Linked DNA regions of Homo sapiens: all the other regions are linked to region 1. Evidence: fine-mapped expression QTL. A gene starts in region 1. Each other region holds a variant in brackets. All regions are shown on one strand. Distances are from middle to middle. Region 1 holds the start of DPEP2 (dipeptidase 2). Region 2 overlaps RIPOR1 (RHO family interacting cell polarization regulator 1). Region 3 overlaps SLC12A4 (solute carrier family 12 member 4).

The links.
Region 2: its variant is fine-mapped to the expression of DPEP2 in whole blood (INTERVAL, PIP above 0.99).
Region 3: its variant is fine-mapped to the expression of DPEP2 in whole blood (INTERVAL, PIP 0.91).

Annotation. Positions count from the first base shown.
Region 1 is chr16:67,995,486-68,003,661 of GRCh38, forward strand. DPEP2 (dipeptidase 2) reads right to left here and starts at 3,999. Exons shown (of 11, transcript NM_022355.4): 1 at 3,890-3,999. It also overlaps the pseudogene KARS1P3. RefSeq lists an enhancer at 2,422-2,938.
Region 2 is chr16:67,530,447-67,538,622 of GRCh38, forward strand. RIPOR1 (RHO family interacting cell polarization regulator 1) reads left to right here. Exons shown (of 22, transcript NM_024519.4): 2 at 7,978-8,104. The coding sequence starts at 8,001. Among named protein-coding and RNA genes, the nearest start is that of RIPOR1, 5.7 kb to the left of the region's middle. RefSeq lists silencers at 6,848-7,127, 7,348-7,857 and enhancers at 7,638-8,176, 8,008-8,077. The variant AT/A (reference allele first, on the strand shown) is at 3,528.
Region 3 is chr16:67,953,163-67,961,338 of GRCh38, forward strand. It overlaps SLC12A4 (solute carrier family 12 member 4), which reads right to left. Exons shown (of 24, transcript NM_005072.5): 4 at 4,736-4,882; 5 at 4,580-4,634; 6 at 1,481-1,611. Among named protein-coding and RNA genes, the nearest start is that of SLC12A4, 11 kb to the right of the region's middle. RefSeq lists an enhancer at 5,913-7,112. The variant CAT/C (reference allele first, on the strand shown) is at 3,671.

The DNA of each region.
Region 1 (8,176 bases):
ACTGCTGGTCAGCAGCTCCCCACACCCACTGGAATAGTGAGAGGGAGGAGAAGCTCTTGGATTTGCTGGTCTCCAGGTCAAAGATGTGGTTTTGGGGATAAACAGTTTATTCTGAGAGCCCCAAGAGGTAAGGGGCATAAAGAATGAGGAACTGAACCTGATCATTATGTGTTATATGTATTGAAACATCACTATGGGTGGGGCGCAGTGACTCACACCCGTGATCCCAGCACTTTGGGAGGCCGAGGTGGGTGGATCATCTGAGGTCAGGAGTTCGAGACCAGCTTGGCCAACATGGGGAAACCCCATCTCTATTAAAAATACAAACATTAGCCGGGCTTGGTGGTGCGCGCCTGTAGTCCCAAATACCTGGGAGGCTGAGTTGGGAGAATCGTTTCAACCCAGGAGGCAGAGGTTGCAGTGAGCCGAGATTGGGCCACTGAACTTCAGCCTGGATGACAGAGCGAGACCCTGTCTCCCCCCGCCAAACAACAACAACAACAACAACAACAACAACAAAAATCACTATGTACCCCATGAATATGTGCAAATTATTATTATTATTGTTTTTGAGATAAGGTCTTGCTCTGTCACCCAGGCTGGACTGCAGTGGTGCAGTCTCAGCTCACTGCAGCCTTAACCTCTCAGGTTCAATCAATCCTCCCACTTCAGCCTCCCGAGTCTGGGACTACAGGTACTCGCCACCACACTCGGCTATTTTTTTTTTTTTTTTTAGAGACAGGGTCTCACTATATTGCCCAGGCTGGTCAATTATTATTTGTCAGTTTGAAAAATGTAAAAATAAGGAAGGGGTAGGTAGGAATAAATAAATAACAGCTGACAGAGTAGGTGAGGAGAATTCAACTTTTTGAATTTTTTTTCTTTTTTTTTTGAGACAAAGTTTTGCTCCTGTTGCCCAGGCTGGAGGGCAATGATGTGATCTTGGCGGGCAATGATGTGATCTTGGCTCACTGCAACCTCCACCTCCTGGGTTCAAGTGATTCTCCTGCCTCAGCCTCCCAAGTCACTGGAATTACAGGCATGTGCCACCACACCTGGCTAATTTTGTATTTTTTAGTAGAGATGGGGTTTCTCCATTTTGTTCAGGCTGGTCTTGAACTCCTGACCTCAGGTAATCCACCCACCACGGCCTCCCAAAGCGCTGGGATTATAGGTGTGAGCGACCGCACTCGGCCAACTTTTTGCATTTTTTTTTAAGCTTCTCTCCAGAGCCCGAATGTCTGACCTCCTGGGACTTGGGGTACCTGCTAGCTCAGCAGAGGCAGGCTGAGTTGAGCCAGTAAAAGTGAGCACTGTCTCTGTAGGAGATAAGCCAGACAACACAATTTTCCATGATATGCAACTTCAGTCCTCAAATGTGGCCTTGAGGGGACCATACAAAGCGAATCACAGACACACCCACACTTGTAGTTGCAGTGAGCATTATGATAACACCATAGCATTCCAGCCTGGGTGACAGGGCAAGACCCTGTCTGTAAAAAAATAGATAATGATATTATTATTATTATTATTATTATTATTATTATTATTATTATTATTTTCTGAGACAGAGTTTCATTCTTGTTGCCCAGGCTGGAGTGCAATGGTGCAATCTTGGCTCACTGCAATCTCTGCCTCCTGGGTTCAAGTGATTCTCCTGCCTCAGCCTCCCGAGTAGCTGAGATTACGGGCGCATGCCACCACTCCCGGCTAATTTTTGTATTTTTAGTAGAGATGGGGTTTTGCCATGTTGGCCAGGCTGGTCTCGAACTCCTGACCTCAGGTGATCCGCCTGCCTTGACCTCCCAAAGTGCTGGGATTACAGGCATGAGCCACCCCCGACCCTTGGCCAAATTTTTTATTTTTATATTTATTTGTTTATTTATTTTGAGATGGAATCTCGCTCTGTCGCCCAGGCTGGAGTGCAGTGGCACAATCTCGGCTCACTGCAAGCTCCGCCTCCCGGGTTCAGGCCATTCTCCTGCCGCAGCCTCCCGAGTAGCTGGGACTATAGGTGCCCGCCAACACGCCCGGCTAATTTTTTGTATTTTTAGTAGAGACGGGGTTTCACCGTGTTAGCCAGGATGGTCTTGATCTCCCGACCTCGTGATCCACTCACCTTGGCCTCCCAAAGTGCTAGGATTACAGGCATGAGCCACCGCGCCCAGCTCACATTTTTTAAAATGGAAGAAATAGGTATGGCTTTTCTGTAGGGAATGGGCTGGAGGCCAGGAGATCAGGAGGGGTAAGGAATGAAGGGGCCTGTAAGGGGGAGAAGCAGTGGGAACAGGAAGGAGACATTCCTGGGACATGTTTGGAAGTTGAACCCAGGATTTGGAGATGCTTTGAAGCAGGGTTGGTGGGAGACAGTAAGGAGGAATCAGCGGTGACACTTAAGGTCGGCTCTGGAGTCAGGCCCTGAGTTTCCCCGCCTCTGCCTTGTTTCCACTCTGCCCACTGCCAGCATCTAGCTAACTTAGACTGTAGCCTCTGACCCCAAATTATCCCTGTGCTCAGGTCTGTGCCACTGATATTGGCAGCTCCTAATGAGAGGTGACAGCGTGCTGCCAGTCCTCACAGCCCTCGCTCGCTCTCGGGGCCTCCTCTGCCTGGGCTCCCACTTTGGCGGCACTTGAAGAGCTCTTCAGCCCACCGCTGCACTGTAGGAGCCCCTTTCTGGGCTGGCCAAGGCCAGAGCCAGCTCCCTCAGCTTGCAGGGAGGTGTGGAGGGAGAGGCGCGAGTGGGAACCGGGGCTGCGAGCGGCGCTTGCGGGCCAGCTGGAGTTTCGGGTGGGCGTGGGCTTGGCGGGCCCGCACTCGGAGCGGCCCGCGGGCCCTGCTGGCCCCGGGCAATGAGGGGCTTGGCACCCGGGCCAGTGGCTGCGGAGGATGTACTGGGTCCCCCAGCAGTGCCAGCTCACAGGCGCTGCGCTCGACTTCTCACCGGGCCTTAGCTGCCTTCCCGGGGGGGCAGGGCTCGGGACCTGCAGCCCTCCATGCCTGAGCCTCCCACCCCCTCCATGGGCTCCTGTGCGGCCGGAGCCTCCCCGGTGAGCGCCGCCCCCTGCTCCACAGCGCCCAGTCCCATCGACCACCACAGGGCTGAGGAGTGCGGGCGCATGGCGCAGGACTGGCAGGCAGCTCCACCTGCATCCCTGGTGCGGGATCCACTGGGTGAAGCCAGTTGTGCTCCTGAGTCTGGTGGGGACGTGGACAATCTTTACGTCTAGCTCAGGATTGTAAATACACCAGTCGGCACTCAGTATCTAGCTCAAGGTTTGTAAACACACCAATCAGCACCCTGTGTCTAGCTCAGAGTTTGTGAATGCACCAACTGACACTCTGTATCTAGCTGCTCTGGTGGGGCCTTGGAGAACCTTTGTGTCGACACTCTGTATTTAGCTAATCTGGTGGCGACGTGGAGAACCTTTGTGTCTAGCTCAGGGATTGTAAACGCACCAATCAGCACCCTGTCAAAACAGACCACTCGGCTCTACCAATCAGCAGGATGTGGGTGGGGCCAGATAAGAGAATAAAAGCAGGCTGCCTGAGCCCGCAGTGGCTACCTGTTCTGGTCCCCTTCCACACTGTGGAAGCTTTGTTCTTTTGCTCTTTGCAGTAAATCTTGCTACTGTTCACTCTTTGGGTCCATGCTGCTTTTATGAGCTTTAACACTCACCGCGAAGGTCTGCAGCTTCACTCCTGAAGCCAGCGAGACCACAAGCCCACTGGGAGGAACAAACGACTCCAGACGCACTGCCTTAAAAGCTGTAACACTCACCACGAAGGTCTGCAGCTTCACTCCTGAGCCAACAAGACCACAAACCCACCAGAAGGAAGAAACTCCAAACATCCAAACATCAAAAGAAACAAACTCCAGACGCGCTACCTTAAGAGCTGTAACACTCACTGCGAGGGTCTGCAGCTTCATTCTAGAACTCAGTGAGACCAAGAACCCACCAATTCCGGACACACTAAGACAAGATTTCACTAGTGTGTGCTGTTTCCCCTGCAAGGGGGAGGGCACAGAGATGGCTTTGGGTGAGGTTAGGGGGAGGATAGGCCTCCTGGTTGGCTAACACTTGTTTACTTCTGGGGCATGAGTGTTCATGTGAGCCCACGATGCCTGGCCTGTTCCTCTTTTAACAAAGTCTGGTAGGACATGGTGGCTCATGCCTGTAATCCCAGTAATTTGAAGGTCGAGGTGAGAGGATCTCTTGAAGCCGGAGGTTTGAGACCAGTCTAGGCAACATAATGAGAACTCTAAGAAAAAGGAAAAAAAAAAGTGGTGCATGCCTGTGGTTCCAGGTACTTACGAGGCTGAGGTGGGAGGTTCGCCTGAGCCCAGGAGTTTAAGGTTGCAGTGAGAGACGATGGCACCACTGCTCCCTAGCCTGGGCGACAGAGTGAGACCCCATCTCTAACAAAACGAAAACAAGATCCAATGCATCCTCCTGCCTGAAGTTCTTCCGTGGCTTCTCATTGCAGAAATCTACCGAATTTCTTTCTTTGGCTTTCAACTCATGGAGAGTCTGCTCTCACCAGCCTCTCCAGTCTCAGCAAATAGCACAAACTTTCCTGTCCTCCAAAATCTGGCCACCTCAGTGATGCTACGTCCCCCCATAGAGCCTTGGCACAACCTCAGCCTCCAATTGGTAGGGCTGTTGAGGCAAGGCCAGGATAGGAAATCTTGCTACCAGGAAGGAGTAGGTGGGTGAACAGCTTTTCCCTCTACTTCCTCTTCTATGCAGTGTTTGCATAAATCAAGACCTGCAGAGGAGGCAGCAGTAGAAACAGTTTGCTCCAAGGACCAAACTTATTCTGGTGTGCAGCTCACTCGCCCCTACTCATCTCCAGTGTATTTCAAGAGTATGCAGGGAAGGAAAAAGTCAGGCTGAGTTATAGCTGCACAGGCTGCCTCCCATGCTCAGAGCGCAGAGGTGGGGTGCAGCTGGGGCTTACTCAGTATCCAGCAGTGCCCAGATGATGATCATCTGCATCCAAGCCCCTCTGGTCCTGGAGACTCATGCTTCCCTTTGATGTCGCCCTGGATCTGCTCCCATGATGTCTGATACAGACAATTCCCAAGAAACAATAGTCTTCCAAGCCAGAAAGCAGCCTGGCCACTGTAGACAAACATCCTCCAATCACCAAGCTGAAGCCACCCTTCCTGAAACGTCAAATAGCTAACATAACATTTTTCTTCCACAAAAGGAAGTCAATGTTTATGTTTCTAGGAGAAGTGCAATAACCCCAAATGCATCTTTATCTCCTGAATGCATCTAGAACCTTCTGCTCAAGCCTTACCAACCAACCCCTACCCCGCCAGCCTCTCTGTCCAACATTCCTGGGGTGCTTTTTTTTTTTTTTTTTGGAGTGCGAGGGCACGATCTCGGCTCACTGCAACCTCCACCTTCCAGGTTCAAGCGATTCTCCTGCCTCAGCCTCCCAAGTACGTGGGATTACAGGCATGCACCACCAGGCTGGCTAATTTTTGTATTTTTTTTAGTAGAGATGGGGTTTCACCATGTTGATGAGGCTGGATTGTCTCGAACTCCTGACCTCGGGTGATCCACCAGCCTTGGCCTCTGAAAGTGCTGGGATTACAGGCATGAGCCACTGCGCCCGGCCTTTTTTCTTTTCTTTTTTTTTTTTTTTTTGAGACAGGATCTTGCTCTGTTGCCCAGGCTGGAGTGCAGTGGTGCCACTTTGGCTCACTGCAACCTCCGCCTCCCAGGTTCAAGCAATTCTCCAACCTCAGCCTCCCTAGTAGCTGGGGCTACAGGCATGCACCACCATGTCCAGCAAATTTTTGTATTTTTAGTAGAGACGGGATTTCACTACATTGGCCTTGAACTCCCGGCCTCAGGTGATCCACCCGCCTTGGACTCCCAAAGTGCTGGGATTACAGGCCTGAGCCACTGTGCCTGGCCCTGGGTTGCTTTCTGATGGAGACGATTGATGACTTGGGTCCCATGTGTACCATTGAGTTCCTCTTGCAGCTGGGTTCTGCCTGATTTCAGACAGTACAGAGGATCTGGGACAGAAGGCTGCATGCTATCCCATGTCCTTGAGGTAGTGCCATCAGCCGAGGGTGGGGAGGAGGCAGGAGGGCCCTGGGGTGCAGGAGCTGGATCCAGCAAGGCCATTAAAAGTATCTCAGGGGACAAGAGATGGTGGCTCATGCCTGTAATCCTAGCACTTTGGGAGGCCAAGGCATGAGGATTGCTTGAGGCCAGGAGTTCAAGACCAGCCTGGGAAACATGGTGAGACCCCTTCTCTACAAAAAAATTTTTTAAAAAGTAGCTGGTCATGGTGGCACATGTCTGTAGTCTCAGCTACTCAGGAGGCTGAGGTGGGAGAATTGCTTGAGCCCAGAAGTTAGAGGCCACAGTGAGCTATGGTCGCTCCACTGCATTCCAGCCTCTGGGAAAGAGCAAGACCCTGTCTTAAAAATAAAATACCTTTTCCGAAACATTTTTTGTAAGATTAAAAAAAGAGAAAAGAAGGAAGGAAGGAAGGAATAAAGAAAAGAAAAGAAAAAAATTTTAAAAGGTTGGGTATGGTGGCTCACGCCTGTAATCCTAGCACTTTGGGAGACCAAGGCAGGTGAATTGCTTGAGCTCAGGAGTTCGAGAGCAGCCTGGGCAACATGATGAAGCCCCGTCTTTATAAAAAATACAAAAATTAGCCAGGTGTGGCAGTGCACACCTGTAATCCCAGCTGCTTGGGAGGCTGAAGCAGGAGAATCGCTTGAACCCGGGAGGCGGAGGTTGCAGTGAGCTGAGATCGTGCCACTGCACTCCAGCCTGGGCAACAAGAGCGAAACTCTGTCTCAAAAAAAAAAAATTTCCTTTTAGAGACAGGGTCTCACTGTGTTGTTCACTGAAACTTCAAACTCCTGGGCTCAGGCAATCCTCCTGCCTCAGCCTTCCGAGTTGCTGGTGGAATCTGTGAGAAACATGGTGACTCGGTCAATAACCATGCCCCAGGCAGTTGTGGGGGACAGCCTGTATTCCATGGCGGCAACAAAGTTTTCATCTACGGACAGGGCCTCATCATCACCTGCGGCCTTAGCCTGTTCTTCAAAAAGCTGCCACTGCTGCATAGGATCATTTAGATCAGTGTAGGCATTGCTTATCGCTTTCTTTATGACAAATAGCTTAAAGCGCTGGGTCAGACCTTTTGAGTAGTGCCATTTAGCCAAAGGGCTCATTATCTGGGGGTGATCACAGATGAATGTAGAATTGTTGCAAATCACTTCCAGGAACTCCCCCAACAAGCTTGTCAAGGAGCCTGGCTGTGGTCCTAGGTGGAGGGCACGCAATAGCATTTGCACGCAGATATTATCAAGAATTTTGCCAATTGCTTCAGTTTCAAATAGGTTATTTTCTGGCAGCTTCACCCCCAGGGCTTTCTCAAGCTCTTCTATCATGCTGATTCTCCGGAAGGGTAGGGTGAAGTCAATATTGCAGGCTTATCCCTCTGGGACATCTGGGTAGTAGGTGACCTTGTAACTACCTGTATTATGCTTCACCATCCCTGGAACCATCTTCCCCGTGATTTCCGTGAGATTGTGATAGTCTAGGCCATGTAGAACTCAGGGGTGCTGAACTCAGGATTTTACGTCAAATCAATTCCTTCATTCCAGAACTGGAATGCAATTTCATAAACCTGGTCAATGCCACCAACCACTAGCATCTTATGGTAGAGTTCTAGAGTAGTTCATGTGCAGCTTGTTGTGATAAGTGATGAAAGGCTTGGTCATAGCTCCCCTGGGATGACGTTCATTCATGGGAGTTTCAAGCTCTAGGAATCCCAGCTCATCCAAGAAACTTTTTTTTTTTTTTTGAGATGGAGTTTTCTTGTTGCTCAGGCTGGAGTATAGTGGTGCAATCTTGGCTTACTGCAACCTCCACCTCCTGGGTTCAAGTAATTCTGCTTCAGCCTCCTGAGTAGCTAGGATTATAGGCACCTGCCACCACGCCCATCTAATTTTTGTATTTTTAGTAGAGGTGGGGTTTTACCATGTCGTCCAGACTGGTCTCGAACTCCTGACCTCAGGCAATCTGCCTGCCTTGGCCTCCCAAAGTGCTGGGATTACAGGCGTGAGCCACTGCACCTGGCCTAAGAAACTTATTATACATGTGATGATCTTACAGCAGATGATAAATTT
Region 2 (8,176 bases), 470 kb before region 1:
CATGGAGACAAGGACAGGCTCAGAAGGGACCCCCTTCTCCCTTGCAGCCGCCCCTTGCCCAGGTTATTTTTAGCCTCTGTTTACCTCGGTCGGGGCGGCCCCGGGGTGGGGCGGGGCTAGACCCGGGGACTCCCAGAGAGGCAGCTGGCCTGGCACAGTGCTGAGATGGGCAGCCCAGGTGGTGGGATATTCCGCCGCACCCGGGTGTGCCAGTCTTGGTGTGTAGGAAGTATAGCGGGGCTGCAAGATCTGGGGCCATGCGGACAGGTCAGGGCTCCTCCACTCACGGCCATCCTGACCTGGCTGTGCTGCAAGCCCCATAACCTTTGGAACCTTGGATCTGGGTTATTTCCCATCCTGGGAACAGACTATAGGGCTGACATGAGCCCAGAGAGTCCCCTGGTTCTTATCAGCCAGTCCCCCACCAGTTGAGGTGGCCCTTCTGCCTTAGCTCAAGGGGTTCAGCTCTTTCCCTACCTGCTCTCACCCAGCAAGGGCAATCTTGCCCGCCCATCTCCCGAAGCGGTCACTCAGATGGACATTATGATGGTCATTTGTACCAACAGTTAGACATCCTAGTTCCTATGGGACTCGGGGGATGGTGGCAGCAGAGGGCCAACCAGAGAGAGAAAAGTGATGGAACAGTCAGCGGTTTCCAAGTCCAGAATCCCAGGGGATCCCCACCCTGCACCATCCCAGGGAGCAGAGCCCCACTTGCTGATGGTATACGATACCATCAGCCAGTGGGAAGGGAGAGGGAGGATTGCATGTCGGGTAGGGGAGTTGGGGTGGACATAGACTTAAAATCCTCCCCACCAACAAACAGCTCAGGACCTGCTGTTCCTGTGTCTAGGCAGCCCAGCTTCCCCCACTGTTCCCCCCCTTCATCTCCCAGGTGCTACAGGACCCCCAGAGCGCTGTGGTGAGCCAAGCAGATATGCCCCAGGTCTCACAAGGTTCAGTCTGGTGGGAAGACAGGCCCTAAAGGAGAACTGACAACTGGGTTATGTGGTCTCGGGGTTCAGAGGGAGGAAGTCAAAAAGGGGGAACCAACCCAGGGCCTGCTTCCTGGAGGAAGAAGTCATAGGGTAGACTTGAGGAAGGAGAGGGACTTGGGGCTGAGTAGTGGGAAGAAGGAATAGGAGCGATGGGGGCTGCCGGTCAGATTCTGAAGAACCTTGCAGGTATTGAGAGAGGGTCTCAGTTGCTGGAACAGAGAAAGCAGGGGACTGGGAGGAGAGGAGTGGTTGAAAGAATGTGAGGGACAGGACAAATCCTGAAGGGCCTACGTGGGTCATGTTAGAGAGTCTGGGCTTTCTCCCTGGGACAAGAGTGGCTGTGGCTATTTCACATCAGTCTGAATAGAGTGATATTAAAGATTTAGAGTCCTGGGGTCAGACAGCCTGGGTTTGAATCATGGTCTTGACACTTACCACCTGTGTGACTGTTTTGTTTTGTTTTTTGAGACAGAGTCTCGCTCTGTCGCCCAGGCTGGAGTGTAGTGGTGAGATCTTGGCTCACTGCAAGCTCCACCTCCCGGGCTCATGCCATTCTCCCACCTCAGCCTACTGAGTAGCTGGGACTACAGGCGCCAGCCACCACGCCCAGCTAATTTTTTTTTTTTTTGTATATTTAGTAGATATGGGGTTTCACCGTGTTAGCCAGGATGGTCTTGATCTCCTGACCTCATGATCCGCCCTCCTCAGCCTCCCAAAGTGCTGGGATTACAGGCGTGAGCCACCGCACCCGGCCGTGTGACTGTTAAAAATAATAGCAGTTAGTATTTGTTGTGTGTTCACAGTTAGATGTTAGCTAGGCATGGTGGTGCATGCCTGTGGTTCCAGCTACTTAAGAGGCTAAGGCAGTAAGATTGCTTGAGCCCAGGAGTTCAAGGCTGCAGTGAGCTATGAACGCACCACTGCACTGAAACTGATCGCTTGAGCCCAGGAGTTCAAGGCTGCAGTGAGCTATGAACACACCACTGCACTGAGACCTGGGTGACAGCGTGAGACCTCGTCTTAAAAAAAAAAAAATTAGGTATAGTGAGTCCACCTCAACGTCCCTACCCCACATACAATTCTCCCTTCCCCAAACACTTCCTATAGAGGGACATCCTCATGAGAGGAGATCTCATTTCATCCTCCCAGCAGCCTTGGGAAATAGCTGTTGTTATTATTATTATTGTCCTCTTTTTACAGATGGGTGTCTGAAGCCCAAAAGGCTGAATAAGTGTCTTGCCCAAGGTCACACAGCCTCAGGTTTCTCAGGTGCGAAGTGGAGCTAATAGGACTTACCCCATAAGGCTGTTGCCAGGATTAAATGAGATGATGTTTGCTAAGCTCAATGCCTGGCATATAGAATGCTCTCAATAAAGGACAGTTTTTGGCACTGTCAAGTGGCTACAATTTTAAGGTCAGTGTTGTTACTGAATAATGAATGGATGATTGCAGGTTAGAGTGGAGACAGGAGGTCCCTCAGGAAGGTTCTAGCTCATCAGAAGCCCAGCTGTAGGGCTCGAGGGGAGAGTTGGTGATGGCTTGGACCTGAATTCTGGCTATAGGGGTAGAGGTGAGGGGGCAGATTGCAGAGAGATTTAAGAGCCAGACCTGGCAGGAGGGGGTGACCTGGCAGGAGGGGGTGACTGGTCATAGGGGCTAACTGAGACATCCAGGACGACTTCTAGTTTCTGTCTTGAACAACGGGGTACATAGATGGTGGAGTGTCATGGAGAAGTTGAGACTAGGGAGAGTCAGGTGGAAAGTGGTGAATTTGGTTTGGGAACCTCAAACCCAGCATGCACTATGACAGCGCACGCTGCATCTGGGGAGGCAGCAAGCAGGCAGTTGGATACAGAGGCCTGGTGCTCAGAAGAGTGGCTTGGGTGGAGGAGAGATAAGGAAGCTGGCAACATTTAGATGGCATTGAGCTGCGGGATCTGTGCACAGCCCAAGGGCGGGGAGGATAAGGCCCATTCGGGGATGGGAGGAAAGAAGGGGCCTCTGTGGGAAAGTAAGATATGCAGCCAGAGAGGTAGATAGAAAACCAGCGTATTGTCTCTTGAAATTCAGGGGAAGGAAGGGCTTAAAGAAGAGGAGGGGAACCACGAAGTCCAAAGCTTTGCTGAGATCAAGCAGGATAAGGATAAAACATGGGCACTGGGTTCAGCAACAGGGAGGTCACTGGTGACCTTGTCCAGTGGTGGGTACAGAAACTGGACCAGGGTGGGAAGAGGAGCAGGCGGGTGTAGTGAGAAAATGCAGGTAGACATCTCTTCAAGACACTTGGCTTTGAAAGGAGAGGAGAAAGATGGAGTAAGAAATGGGGTAGCTGGACAAAGACAGAAGGTCCACAAGCAGTCTTTTTTTTTTTTTTTTTTCTGAGATGGAGTTTTGCTCTTGTCGCCCAGGCTGGAGTGCAATGGTGCAATCTTGGCTCACTGCAACCTCCACCTCCCGGGTTCAAGCGATTCTCCTGCCTCAGTCTTCTGAGCAATTGGGATTACAGTCATGCGCCACCACGCCCGGCTA[AT/A]TTTTTTTTTTTTTTTTTTTTTTTTAGTAGAGACGGGGTTTCACCAAGTTGGTCAGGCTGGTCTCGAACTCCTTACTTCAGGTGATCCACCTGCCTCGGCCTCCCAAAGTACTAGGATTACAGGCATGAGCTGCTGCACTGGGCTGAGTCATTTCTTTTTTGTAATTTTTTTTTTTTAAGAAAGAATCTTGCTCTATCACCTAGGCTGTAGTGCAGCGCGACCTCAGCTCACTGCCTCCTGGGTTGAGCAATTCTCATGCCTCAGCCTCCCGAGTAGGTGGGACTACAGGCCATGCCACCACACCTGGCTAATTTTTGTATTTTTAATAGAGTCAGGGTTTCACCATGTTGGCCAGGCTGGTCTCAAACTCCTAGCCTCAGTGATCCACCTGCCTCAGCCTCCCAAAGTGCTAGGATTACAGGCGTAAGCCACCGCACCGGCCCAACATTTTGTAATTATTTACAACCAATTTTACATTGAAATATAATAGGCACACAAAAAGTGTGTATGTCCTAAGTGTACAACTCTGTACATTTTCATAAGAGAACACACTCATATAGAATCAGGAAATTTAACCCAGAGCAGGAAATAGGACATTACCAGCACCCTGGAAGACCCTTGTGGCCTCTTCAGTCACAACACCTGGAGGGAGACTCCCAGGCTGACTTCTATCACCATAGATTAGTTTTGCTTGCTTTTGAACTTATTATCAAGGTCATACATTTGTCCTCTCTTGGGTTTGCTCTCAGATCCACCCATATTGTTGCATGTCACTGTATATTTTTCATTCTTTTTGCTATGTGGTAATTCCATTATTCATTGACAGGCATCTGGACAGTTTCTAGGGTTTTCTTTTTTTCTTTTTTTTTTTTTTTTTTTTTTTTTGAGACAGACTCCCGCTCTGTCACCCAGCCTGGAGTGCAGTGGCATGATAGCAGCTCTCTGCAGCCTCTGCGTCCCAGGTTCAAGCGATCCTCCTGCCTCAGCCGCCCAGGTAGCTGGCACTACAGGCGTGCACGACCAAGCCCAGCTAATTTTTGTATTTTTAGCAGAGATGGGGTTTCACCATGTTGGCCAAGCTGGTCTCGAACTCCTGACCTCAAGTGATCCACCCACCTCTGCCTCCCAAAGTGTTGGGATTATAGGCATGAACCACCACACCCAGCCCGTTTTTATTTTTCATGTGGGAGTGACTTGAGCTTGTCTGAGACTTGTGGAGAAAGTCTGAAACACCCCAAAAGGAGAAAGATGACTAGGGTCACACTTGAGGATTTGCCAGGTGGGCAGTGAGGGCCTGGCCAAGGTTGAGGATTGCTCTGTGATTCCAGCCAGGCTGCTGTGCCAAGACCTCTGGCAACTCCTGCCAACCTGTGTGCAGGTGTAGAGAAGTCCAGGAGTTGGATTCCCCAGGGCTGGTTTCTGCCAGCTGGGAGAGAGGTGCGCAGTGCTGAGGATACTTGCAGCAGGCAAGTGATGGGATGGTGGCTGTGGATCCAGGCTGGGGAGGAGGCTGTGCAGGGAAGGTACAGAAGAGAAGGTAGGAGGGAGCTAGCAGAAAAAAAGAAAGCAGAGGCGGACTGTGAGCTCTGCACAGGGTGGTGTCTGTGAAATTCTGGGCTGTATCTCCAGTGACTGGCACATGCTTGGCACAAGGTTGCCACTCAGTGAATAGGTGAATAAATGGGTGAGGGCTCAAGGGGCCAGAGGTCTCAGGTAAAAGGCAGGTGAGGTGGGGGTGATGGAAAGCCTGAGGGTTGCATCAGTGTGGTTGTGGTTTAGGAGGGGGGCATTCCAAAGGCAGGTGATAAGGCTGGGGATGGCTGAAGGGACCAGAGAGGCCAGCGATAGGCAGGCAATCCATGGGAATGCACAGGTCACCAGTGTAGGGTGCAGGGTACCCAGGCTTCGCCTTCAAGGAGGAGGGGAGAATAACATATCTCAAACTGAGGTCCCTGGACCTCTTGCATCTGAATCTGTCGGGGGGAGGGGGAACTTGTGGAAATGCAGACCCCTGGGCCCAACCCAGCCTTTTGGGGAGAAAGTAAGCACAGTATGGGAGAACTGAGCCTCAAGGAGCAAGAGTGTTTATGGGATGGGGGAGCATCCAGCCCCTCCAAGGTCAAGGGAGGGATGGGCATGGTGGCATCTATCCAGGCTAGAGGTGGACATGGGATATTCAAAGAAGAGATAGGCTGGGCGCGGTGGCTCATGCCTGTAATCCCAGCACTTTGGGAGAATGAGGCAGGCTGATCACTTGAGGTCAGGGGTTCAAGACCAGCCTGGCCAACATGGTGAAACCCCGTCTCTATTAAAAATACAAACATTAGCCAGGCATAGTGGCGGGTGTTTGTAATACCAGCTATTTGGGAGCCTGAGGCAGGAGAATCGCTTGAATCTGAGAGGCAGAGGTTGCAGTGAGCCAAGATCGTGCCACTGCACTACAGCTTGGGAGACACAGAAAAAAAAAGAGAGGTACTGGGGATGGGGATCAGGATGGGAACGCAGAACCTGAGAGGCCCATGTGAGCTGGGGGCAGGAAGGATGGGGCATTAGCCTAGGATGCAGCTTGACTAGGGAGGAGGCCCTGGCTGGCAGCCAGACCTGATCCTTTCCCCTGGGTCCTGGGAAGAGGGGAGTGCTCAGGCTGAGCACTCCCTCTGTGGGAGTAGGGATGGGGTGGTGCATGGGGCTGTGGGACTCTGCATCCAGTTCCTTCTCTGCATCTCTCTTGGCGCAGCAGCACACACTATGGGGTGGATCTAGCCTCACACTTTCAGCCTCTCTTCTCAGCCTCAGTCCCCTGGTGATCAGTGCCCTAACTCTCCGCCCTCCATTGGCACAGCCCCTCCAATCAGCACCCTTAGCCCATCTTTCCACTCTTCAGCCCCCTACTATCCACCTTCTCACACTTAGAACCCCAGCTCTCAGCCCTCTGTGTGTTCAGCCTTAGCACTGCTCAACAGCCACTCTTTTTTGGGGGAGACGGAGTCTCGCTCTGTCGCCCAGGCTGGAGTGCAGTGGCGCCACCTCCCGGGTTCAAGCGATTCTCCTGTCTCAGCCTCCTGAGTAGCTGGGATTACAGGCGCGCGTCACCATGTCCGGCTAATTTTTGTATTTTTAGTAGAGACGGGGTTTCACCTTGTTGGTCAGGCTGATCTCGAATTCCTGACCTCGTGATCCGCCCGCCTCGGCCTCCCAAAGTGCTGAGATTACAGGCGTGAGCCACTGTGCCCGGCCTCAATAGCGACTCTTTAAGCCCCCTACTCTAATGTCTGATACTTCCTCCACTTAGCGTCTCCATTCTATCCCTTCATATTCATCCCCATGCTCAAATCCCTTTACGCACATTGCTGACCCCAGCTGAGCAGACCCCTCGCCCCCCGTCGGTCCCCTCCCCGAGGGGAACCCCAGTCACCGGTCCCGCCCCATCCAGGCGGGCTGAGTCAGGCGGCAGGAACTGGGCGGGGGGCGGCGCCGGGAGGAGCCGAAGCCGAGCCAGAGCCGCTGGGAGCGAGCCCGGAGCCCAGCCGGGCGGCTCGAAGTGGCCAGGGCCGGAAGGTCCGCGGGGGGCGAGCGCGGGTCGGGGGCCGTCCCGGACCCACCATGAACACCAAGAAGAGAGGTAGGACCCAGCTCGGGGCTGCGAAAGCTCAGGGACTGGCCCCAGGGGAAGCAGGCCGGGTTTGGGGGCCAGGAGTGTGTGTTTCGCCGAAGCGGGGTGGGGGTCTGCCGAGGAGCTCTCCCCGCCGATGCCGGGGTGGAGGCGCACGTCCGTGACTCAGTTTCCAGGTGGGAGCCTCAGGAAAGAGGAGGGGGCGGGGCCCTTCTCGGCATCGCGCCCAGCTCTGGGAATCCCCCTGCCTGGAGGGCGCCGGGACGCCCGGGCCGGTGGGGGCTGGGGGCAGCAGGTCACGCTGGCAGGCGGGGGGCGGGCGACAAACCCGCACCGGCTGGGCCTGTCGGGCAGCTCCGCAGGGCTCCGAGCGTGGCCCCGCCCCGCCCCGTGACCTCCTTGGGCTCCCGGGGTGGGGGGCCCCGAGCTCCGGGTGCCCTGGGGGGGGAAATCGGGGGCAGGGCTGGGGAGGCTGCCCCGCCCCCGGGTAAACAGGCGCTTCCGCACATTCTTCGCGCGCGCCGCCCCTTTCCTGCCCCTTCCCAGCCGGAGGAGGGTCCCCGCGCGACCCCCCTTCCTGCCCCGCGGCAGGCGGAGCCCGCACCTCGGCAGGAAGTGGGGGCCGAGCCGAGGCCACGCTGAGTCCGAGGCCGAGTCGCCTGCGGCTGTCCTGTCATTAGTGCCCGGGTCGGCGGGACTAGGCGGACCCGGCCGGAGCCCGCTGGGGCAGCTGTGCCTAGCGACAGGAAAGACCTGCGCCAGCCCTGGATCCCGCTGCGTGGGAGAGGGCTTCGGGGATCCGACTGGTACTGGACACCCCCCCGATCACCCGCAGGGAGCCCCGCGCGGACTCACTCTATGATGTCCCTGTCGGTGCGGCCGCAGCGCCGTCTGCTCAGCGCCCGGGTCAATAGGAGCCAGTCCTTCGCAGGCGTCCTCGGCAGCCACGAGCGGGGGCCCAGGTACGCGGCCGCGCAGGGTTGGTGGGGTCAAAGGGCGTCAGATGGGGCTGGGTCTGGGGGTGCGTAGTGAGA
Region 3 (8,176 bases), 42 kb before region 1:
GACTGCCTGAGCTCAAGAGTTCGAGACAACCCCAGGCAACTTGGTGAAACCTCATCTCTACTAAAATACAAAAAATTAGCTGGGCGTGGTGGCATGAGCCTGTAATCCCAGCTACTCGGGAGGCTGAGGCAGGAGAATCACTTGAACCCAGGAGGCGGAAATTGCAGTGAGCTGTGATCATGCCACTGCACTCCAGCTTGGGCGACAGAGTGAGACTGCATCTCAAAACAAATAAATAAATAAAAATAAAAAATAAGAGTACCTAAAAGAAGCCAGTCACAAAAGGTCACATATTATATGATTCTGTTTATATGAGATGCCCAGAATAGGCAAATCCCAAGGCAGAAAGCAGATTCCTGGTTGCCAGGGCTGGCGGGGAATGGAGAGTGACTGCTAATGGGGGTTCTTGGGATGATGAAAATGTTCTAGAATTGACTGCGCAACTCTGTGAATATACTATAAAACATTGAATTGTACACTTTCAATGGTATATAAATTGGTATGGGAATTGCATGGTATGTAAATTATATGTTAATAAAGCTGTTACTTAAAAACAAGCAAACAAAAAGGATCCAAACATAGATGCCAACCTGAATCGTTAAATAGCCAAAGTGGAACAGTTTGAGCAAGAAAATAAATAATGATAGTATTGGATTACAACCCAAAGAATAAAGTAAATATCCAGAAGTCCATACAGATATAATGACATGGCTGAATAGATAAACAGGAGAAGGGACAAATCCCACATAATGAATGTAGAAGGGATATGAGAAATGAAAACAAGCCAAAGCCCCCCCAAATCAGAAGATTCAGGTGCAGGGTCCTGCTGCAGGTAGAGGACCTGGAGACAAGAACAGCCAGGCAGTCCCTCCAGGTATCTCCTACCCTCTGGATCCCCAGGGGCGGGCACCTGTCACCCCATGCCTCCCGCAGCTCCTTGCCTCTTCTCCCACTGGTACGGCAGTTCACTGGGGAATGAGAAGCTGAGGCTGACAGAGCTCCCATGGGGCTCGTGGAGGGAGCGCCGACCTCCAGCAGGGTTCTGTGGCTGCTTACCCTGATTGAAGGACAAGGAGAAGGTGGATCTGAAGTGCCCTGGCACAGAGCCCCGGAGGACACAGAGCTGGCCAGAGCTCACACAAGCCCAGAAGGAAGCCTACATCACCACCAAGATCTGTCACTGAGCTGAATACAACAGTTCCTGGAACCCTTGCCATGGCTGCAATGGTGCCCAGGTGGATGGAACATCCAGGGCCGAGGTGAAGGCAGCCAGGCCTCTGCCTTGCCTGGCCCAAACTGGCATGGAGGTGAAAGGAAGACCAGCCTGAGTAAAGGTCTTTGTCTCTCGAAGAGGCTTCCTACTTTATAATACCCAGGCCTTGGCCAGACATGTGGGGATGAACAGCCTGAGCCTTCTGTTTGGAGTCCAAAGGGACTGTTTGGACATGGCCAGAGTTGGCCAGGGCTCAGCCTGACTCACCAGCAAGATCTCGATGGCCCCCAGGATGTACATGGCTGCTGCGAATGTTGTTCCCAGGTAGAAGCACAGGCCCACAGCACCTCCAAATTCTGGCCCCAGTGAACGAGAGATCATGAAATAGGAGCCCCCAGCTACAGCAGAGAAATGAAAGTGTGCACAGGTCAAGGCTGGTTCTTCTTCAAGGGGTCTCCCTGTGACAAGCCTGCACAACCACCCAGAGGGACAGGGACTGCTTTTCCTGTTTGTGGATGAGTAGAGGGGCTGGGAGACCTACCCAGGGCTGCACGGTGGGTAAGCATCTAGGCTGACATTCGATCCTATCCCCATCTGACTCGAATGTCCAGCACGGCCCGTGGAAATAACTGCTTTGCGGGAGCAGCTCTAGTCTGCAGCAGTGGCTGACTGGCCACCATCCTCCAATGCCCTGTGCACAGCCCACAGCCTCCTCTGGCTGGGTGTGTCCTATCTCAGCCCACCTCACCCTCCTGAGGCCTGTGCCTTTGTTAGTCTGACTCCTCCAGACCAGAGGAGGGACTGTCTCATCCAGCCTTTTGGCCCTAAGGCCCCGCACAGTGCCTGCCACCAGGTGAGTGTCCACGGCTCCCTGCCCTGAATCTGTGCTTCTATCAAAGTCTAACACCCTTAAAAGACTCAGAGAGTCATGACCAGGCCCCAGGGTGACAAGCACAGGGGGACAAGAGTCATCTCATGTTGCTGGTTGTATCTGCTGCTGAGACAATGTCTCTGGTGAAAATCTGGGAACAGGGATCAAGAAATTCTTTCAAAGAGTCAATCTTGGCTGGGCGTGGTGGCTCATGCCTGTAAGCCCAGCATTTTGGGAGGCTGGGGTGAGTGGATTGCTTGAGCTCAGGAGTTCCAGACCAGTCTGGGCAACATGGCGAGACCCCGTCTCTACTAAAAAAAGGAAATGATAAAAATATACATTTTTAAAAAAAGGCCGGGTGCAGTGGCCCACATCTGTAATCCCAGCATTTTGGGAGGCTGAGATGGGTGGACTGCCTGAGCTCAGGAGTTCGTGACCAGCCTGGGCAACACGATGAAACCCCGTCTCTACTAAAATACAAAATTAGCTAGGCGTGGCGGTGTGCACCTGTAGTCCCAGCTACTCAGGAGGCTGAGGCAGGAGAATCGTTTGAACCTGGGAGGCAGAGGGTGCAGTGAGCCGAGATCATGCCACTTCACTCTAGCCTGGCGACAGAGTGAGACTCCGTCTCAAAAAAAAAAAAATGTCAGCTGGGCACAGTGGCTCACGCCTGTAATCCCAGCACTTTGGGAGGCTGAGGCAGGCAGATGACTTGAGGTCAGGAGTTTGAGACCAGCCTAGCCAACATGGTGAAACCCCATCTCTACTAAAAATACAAAAATTAGCTGAGCATGGTGGTGCATGTCTGTAATCCCAGCTACTCGGGCGGCTGAGGCAGGAGAATCGCTTGAACCTGGGAGGTGGAGATTGCAGTGAGCTGAGATCGTGCCACTGCACTCCAGCCTGGGCGACACACTCCGTCTCAAAATAAATAAATAAATAAATAAACGAAAAGTCAATCTTTTTCATGCCGTAATCCACCTCCAGGACCCTCTCCTAAGGGAACTGCTGGGGCATGAACAAAGATTCATGTTCAAGGATGTTCATGACAACAATGTATACAATGGTGAAAAAGTGGAACCCACAGGCAGGAGAATAATCACATTAATTAGGTTATGGTGTACCATGGAGAATCCTGTTTTCAAAAAACCATTTTCGGCAGGGTGCAGTGGCTCACACCCGTAATCCCAGCACTTTGAGAGGCAGAGGTGGGTGGATCAGTTAAGGTCAAGAGTTCGAAACCATCCTGGCCAACATAGTGAAACCTCGTCTCTACTAAAAATACAAAAATGTGGTGGTCGCCTGTAATCCCAGCTACTCAGGAGGCTGAGGCATGAGAATCACTTAGAATTGCTTAAACCTGGGAAATGGAGGTTGCAGTGAGCTGAGATCATGCCACTGCACTCCAGCCTGGGTGACAGAGAGAGACTCTGTCTCAAAAAAAACCCAAAAAACCAAAATCAAAAAACTGTTTTCAACACTTGGGAAACATACACACACACATACACACGTAAACATATACACATAAATGCATATGTATATATACACACATATACTTTTGGGAAATACACACAAACACACACACA[CAT/C]ATATATATATATATATACAATTTATGTAAATAGAGTGTGCGTGTGCAATACTTCATAAGACCCTAAGACTTATATATACCAAAAGGCGAACAGTAGTGATTTCAGGATGGTGGGATTATGGGTGCTTTTAATTTTCCATTCTATACCTTTCTGCACTTTTTTATTATTTATTTATTTATTTTGGAGATGGAGTCTTGCTCTGTCACCCAAGCTGGAGTGCAGTGGCATGATCTTGGCTCACTACTGCAACCTCTGCCTCCTGGGTTCAAGCTATTCTCTGCCTCAGCCTCCCAAGTAGCTGGAATTACAAGTGCCCACCACCATGCCTGGCTAATTTTTTTTTTTTTTTTTTGCGACGGAGTCTCGCTCTGTCGCCCAGGCTGGAGTGCAGTGGTGCAATCTCGGCTCACCGCAAGCTCTGCCTGCCAGGTTCACGCCATTCTCCTGCCTCAGCCTCCCGAGTAGCTGGGACTACAGGCGCCCGCCACCACGCCCGGCTAATTTTTTGTATTTCTAGTAGAGATGGGGTTTCACCGTGTTGGCCAGGATGGTCTCGATCTCCTGCCCTTGTGATCCACCCACCTCGGCCTCCCAAAGTGCTGGGATTACAGGCATGAGCCACCGCGCCTGGCCTTTTTTTGCACTTTCAAACCCTCTTACAGTAAACATACATTGCCCTTTTTTTTTCTTTTTTGGTATTGCTTTTATATTAACAAAAACCACAATGGCACTCTCCAACTCTGTCAAGCAGGAAAGCTCCTACGTGGGCACTGTCCTGGCATCAGGGATTGGGAGCCCACTACAGAACTGCTTGGGGCAGGGGTGTGCTATGGGGGTTCCCAGGTAGGTCAAGGCAGATACTGGGTCCTTTTCTCTTCCACCAGGCCTTGGGTGGCGCTCACTGACCTGGAACCACACCGTTGGTGGCGATGGCACTCATGGAGATGGCCGTCAGCAGGGTCTGTGGGAAGGAGGGCCTGGGTGAGCGGCTCAGCTGGGTGGGCTCTGTGGGGGCAGCCGTGGCCCATGCCCAGCCCAACCCTCCCACGCCAGGACACTCACACAACAGCAGCAGATAAGCACGATGAGGAGGGCCTGTAGCACACCTGCTGTGCCCACCATCCAGGTCAGCCGCAGGAAGAGGATAACCCCAAAGATATTCTGCAGGCAGGGCAGGTACACCCCCATGAGGGTGCCCATGCTGGGTGCCTATGCGAACACAAAGGGAGGGGGCGAGTAGAGCATCAGAGGGATGCACCATGGAGAGTCAGCCCTAGTCACTCAGCAGGCCCCCTCCCCCAGTGGGGCCCCAGGGAACACAGAGAGTAGGGGTGACAGCTAGGATGTCTCTATTGACTTTCATATAGGAAGACAGTTGAGTCTGGGAAGGTGTAAAACCTGATTCTTTTTAAAAACCCACATTGAACTTTGGAACCTTAACTCTCTCTCAAGGTACTGCCTCCTTCCCTTCCTCTCTTCTGTTAAACTTCTAGAAAGAGAGGTTTGTCTCAGATCTCCACCTTCTCACCCAGCAGGCCCTAAGTCACCCAAGCCAAAGTCCCAGAAGTCATCCCTGGCCCTCCCTCTCAACCCCCAACTCTAGTCCCGGTAGACACTAACTCCTACCCAGTCTGTCTCCCTGCTGCCCTGAGATCAGCCTGCCTTGTCCCAGCCTTAGTCCCTTGAACCTGGGGCACCTGGGTGGTACCCTCCTGAGCCTGTCAACCTCTCCACACTCCAGCCCACTCTGCTGCTATAGTAGGTCTCTGAAAGCAAGTCTAATCTCATCACCCATGCTGAAAACCCTCTGTTGTCTTGTAATCCAGTGTGCCGTCCAACTCCTTGGCTTGGGCCACCAGATGTGTCCCATCACCTCTCTTATTAGCTCCAGCCCCTGACCACATGGGTCCCTCAGATTCTGCGAACCTGAGAATGTGCTGGACTCTGCCTGGGAGAGTCGGCCCTGCCTCACGGCCTGGCAAACTCTTCAGTGAAACTGTTACCTCTCTCGGGAAGATGTCCGAAGGTTGCCTCAGGTGGAGTTGGTTCTCCCTCTCACATTCCTTTGGCATCTGATACTCCCTATCACAGTGGTCACTACAGGTCATGGTAACAGAATGTGCTTGTATATTTTGTTACTATATTAGGGCAGGCTTGGCTTGTTTATGGTTCTATCACCAGCAGGCCCTGCAGGTACCCAAAAGGTGCTTCTGAACCCAGTGAGTGGTGCTTTGGAAGCCCCTGGGACATCCTGTTGGGAAAATCCTACAGAGAAAGTGCTCAGGCTGTAGGGCAGGTGAGGAAGATCTAATACGCAAATCCAGGCAGGCTTTCTCAACTCAGGGCAGAGTAGGGGCCAGCCAGGAGGCCAGGGCAGAGGCTGAGAGCACAGAGGCTGGCTGACATCTTTTTGAGGCACTGAGCCCCCAAGAGTGCAGCCTCCGAAGTGTGGCCCTGACAGCTTCCACTGGAGCCCCAGCAAAGCCTCCTCACTGATCCAAAGGACTAGATTAGTGAAAATCATACGGGGAGAGGGGACAGGGAAGACCCACGAGACAGTGCCCGTGCTGCCCTGAAGCTAGGGAGAAGAGAACTCCATGGCCATGATCTTGTCTAGCTGAGTCACCTTAGACAAGTTCCTTAATGCCCCTCCTGAAGGGTCCTGGCCTGGGGCAAGACCTGTGAGCGACCTAAAGGACTTCAGAAGAGCCTCAGCAAAAACAAATGGCTCCTCAACCTGTCCTGCGTGGAGCAGTGCAGGGGACGGATCCCCCTCATCTGGGCTTTGTCTGAGCCCTTCTCAGAGGATGCCACCCACAGAATAGCGACAGCAAGAGCTCCCAGTCCCACCCCCATCCCAGGCTGAGTCACTCTAAGAAAAGGACAGTGTGGGAAAGGGCAGGGTGGGCCGGAAATGCTTTCTGCATCCCCAAATAACCTCTGGCAGCCTCAGAAGGTCATCAAGCCGGTGCTGGAGCTGGAGCAGCTGCTGGGGAGAGGCTGCTTTGGGTCTTGGCATGGTCTGGTCGGAGGCCCACCCTTCCTGCTTCAAGCCTTCCTTTTCCGAGGCCCCTGCTCGGGCCTGCCCTGGGTGAGGACCACAGCTCAGCAGCCCCAGATCCCTAACTTCCTACTGACTCCTTAAAGACTTGACCCAGCTCCTCCTTCTTCCATGAAAAAACTACTGCAGCTAAGACACCCAGTCACCCTCTCCCATCCTTACCCTGTGGCCAGGTAAGCTGGATAGCTAAGCTAAGCATCCTCACGGGTTCCCCATTGGGCCAAGGGATGATGGGCTCTCTCTGGCCCAGGCATCCCTCCCACATTCCTGCTGAGATGTGCACTAGCCGTTCTCAGGGGCCTCTTCACTCCCCGCCACCAGCTCCCTGGCTTGGCCTGAAGGGACAAGGATGAGGCTCTGACCTAAGGATCCTGTCACCCACTGTGGGCAGAGCACTCTCAGAGGTTGAGACACCCCTGCAGTGCTGGACAGACATGGCCAGACGCAGTTAGGGTTCTCTGCTATCTAGTCACACCTGGCTGCACAGGGTCAGGGTCAGGTCTGTGCGACCTCAAGGTATCAGCTGCCCTCTCTGAAGTGTGGGCTGGTTTGCCTCCCTGAAGGGCAAGGTGAGAGACGCGCTTCAGTGGGGTCTACCTTCTCTGCTGGCCCCACCCCAGAAAGGCCCAAATCTCACGACCAGGTGTGAGGCTGCAGGCCTGGCTTATCCCAGCCAGGAGCGCCTTCTGCTTGTGCCGACCTCTGAGAATACTACAGCCAGTGCCAGACGTCAGCTCCTCTTAAAACACCACTGCTTCCCAAACCTCAGGGAGTCAGTGTGTGGAGAGGGAGGGTCCCTAGCCTCCAAATGAAAAATGTAGAAAAATCCCCAGCCCTCAGCTACACTGAGCCGCAATGACACAGAGGAGCTAGGCAAAGAGGTAACAGTCACCCCAAAGAGAAGAGGGCTGAAGGGCCAGAGAACTGGATTAGTGACCAAAAAGTGGGACAGGAAAGCCCCACAAGGCAGCATCAGGCTCCGATCACATACACATGTCCCCTGACACTGGCACTCAAGGAACCCAGGGGGTTGTTGGAGGCTTCTGCCAATAGAGCCTTGGGCCAACACTGCGAGCAGCAGGAGGGTTTGTGACTTGCTCTGGATTGCATGACCTCCGAGAGACAACCTGGTTCCTGGCTCCAAGGGCAACACTCTTAGCCAGCCTCACACAATGTCACTGATCTGGCATTTTGCATAGTTACATATCCCACAAATCTGTCTCCCATAAAATCTACGAATCCATCTCCCAGCATTACACATTGATCTTGTCTAGCTCAGTCACCTTAGACAAGTTCCTTAATGTCCCTGACACTATTTCCTTGTCTGAAAAATGGGGATGATAGTAAGCACCTGCCTCTTGGTTTTGTTGTACAGATGACATATGAGAACCCAGGCCTGGTGTGGTACCTCGCACACAGTAAAGGCTGAGTACAGGCAGCTG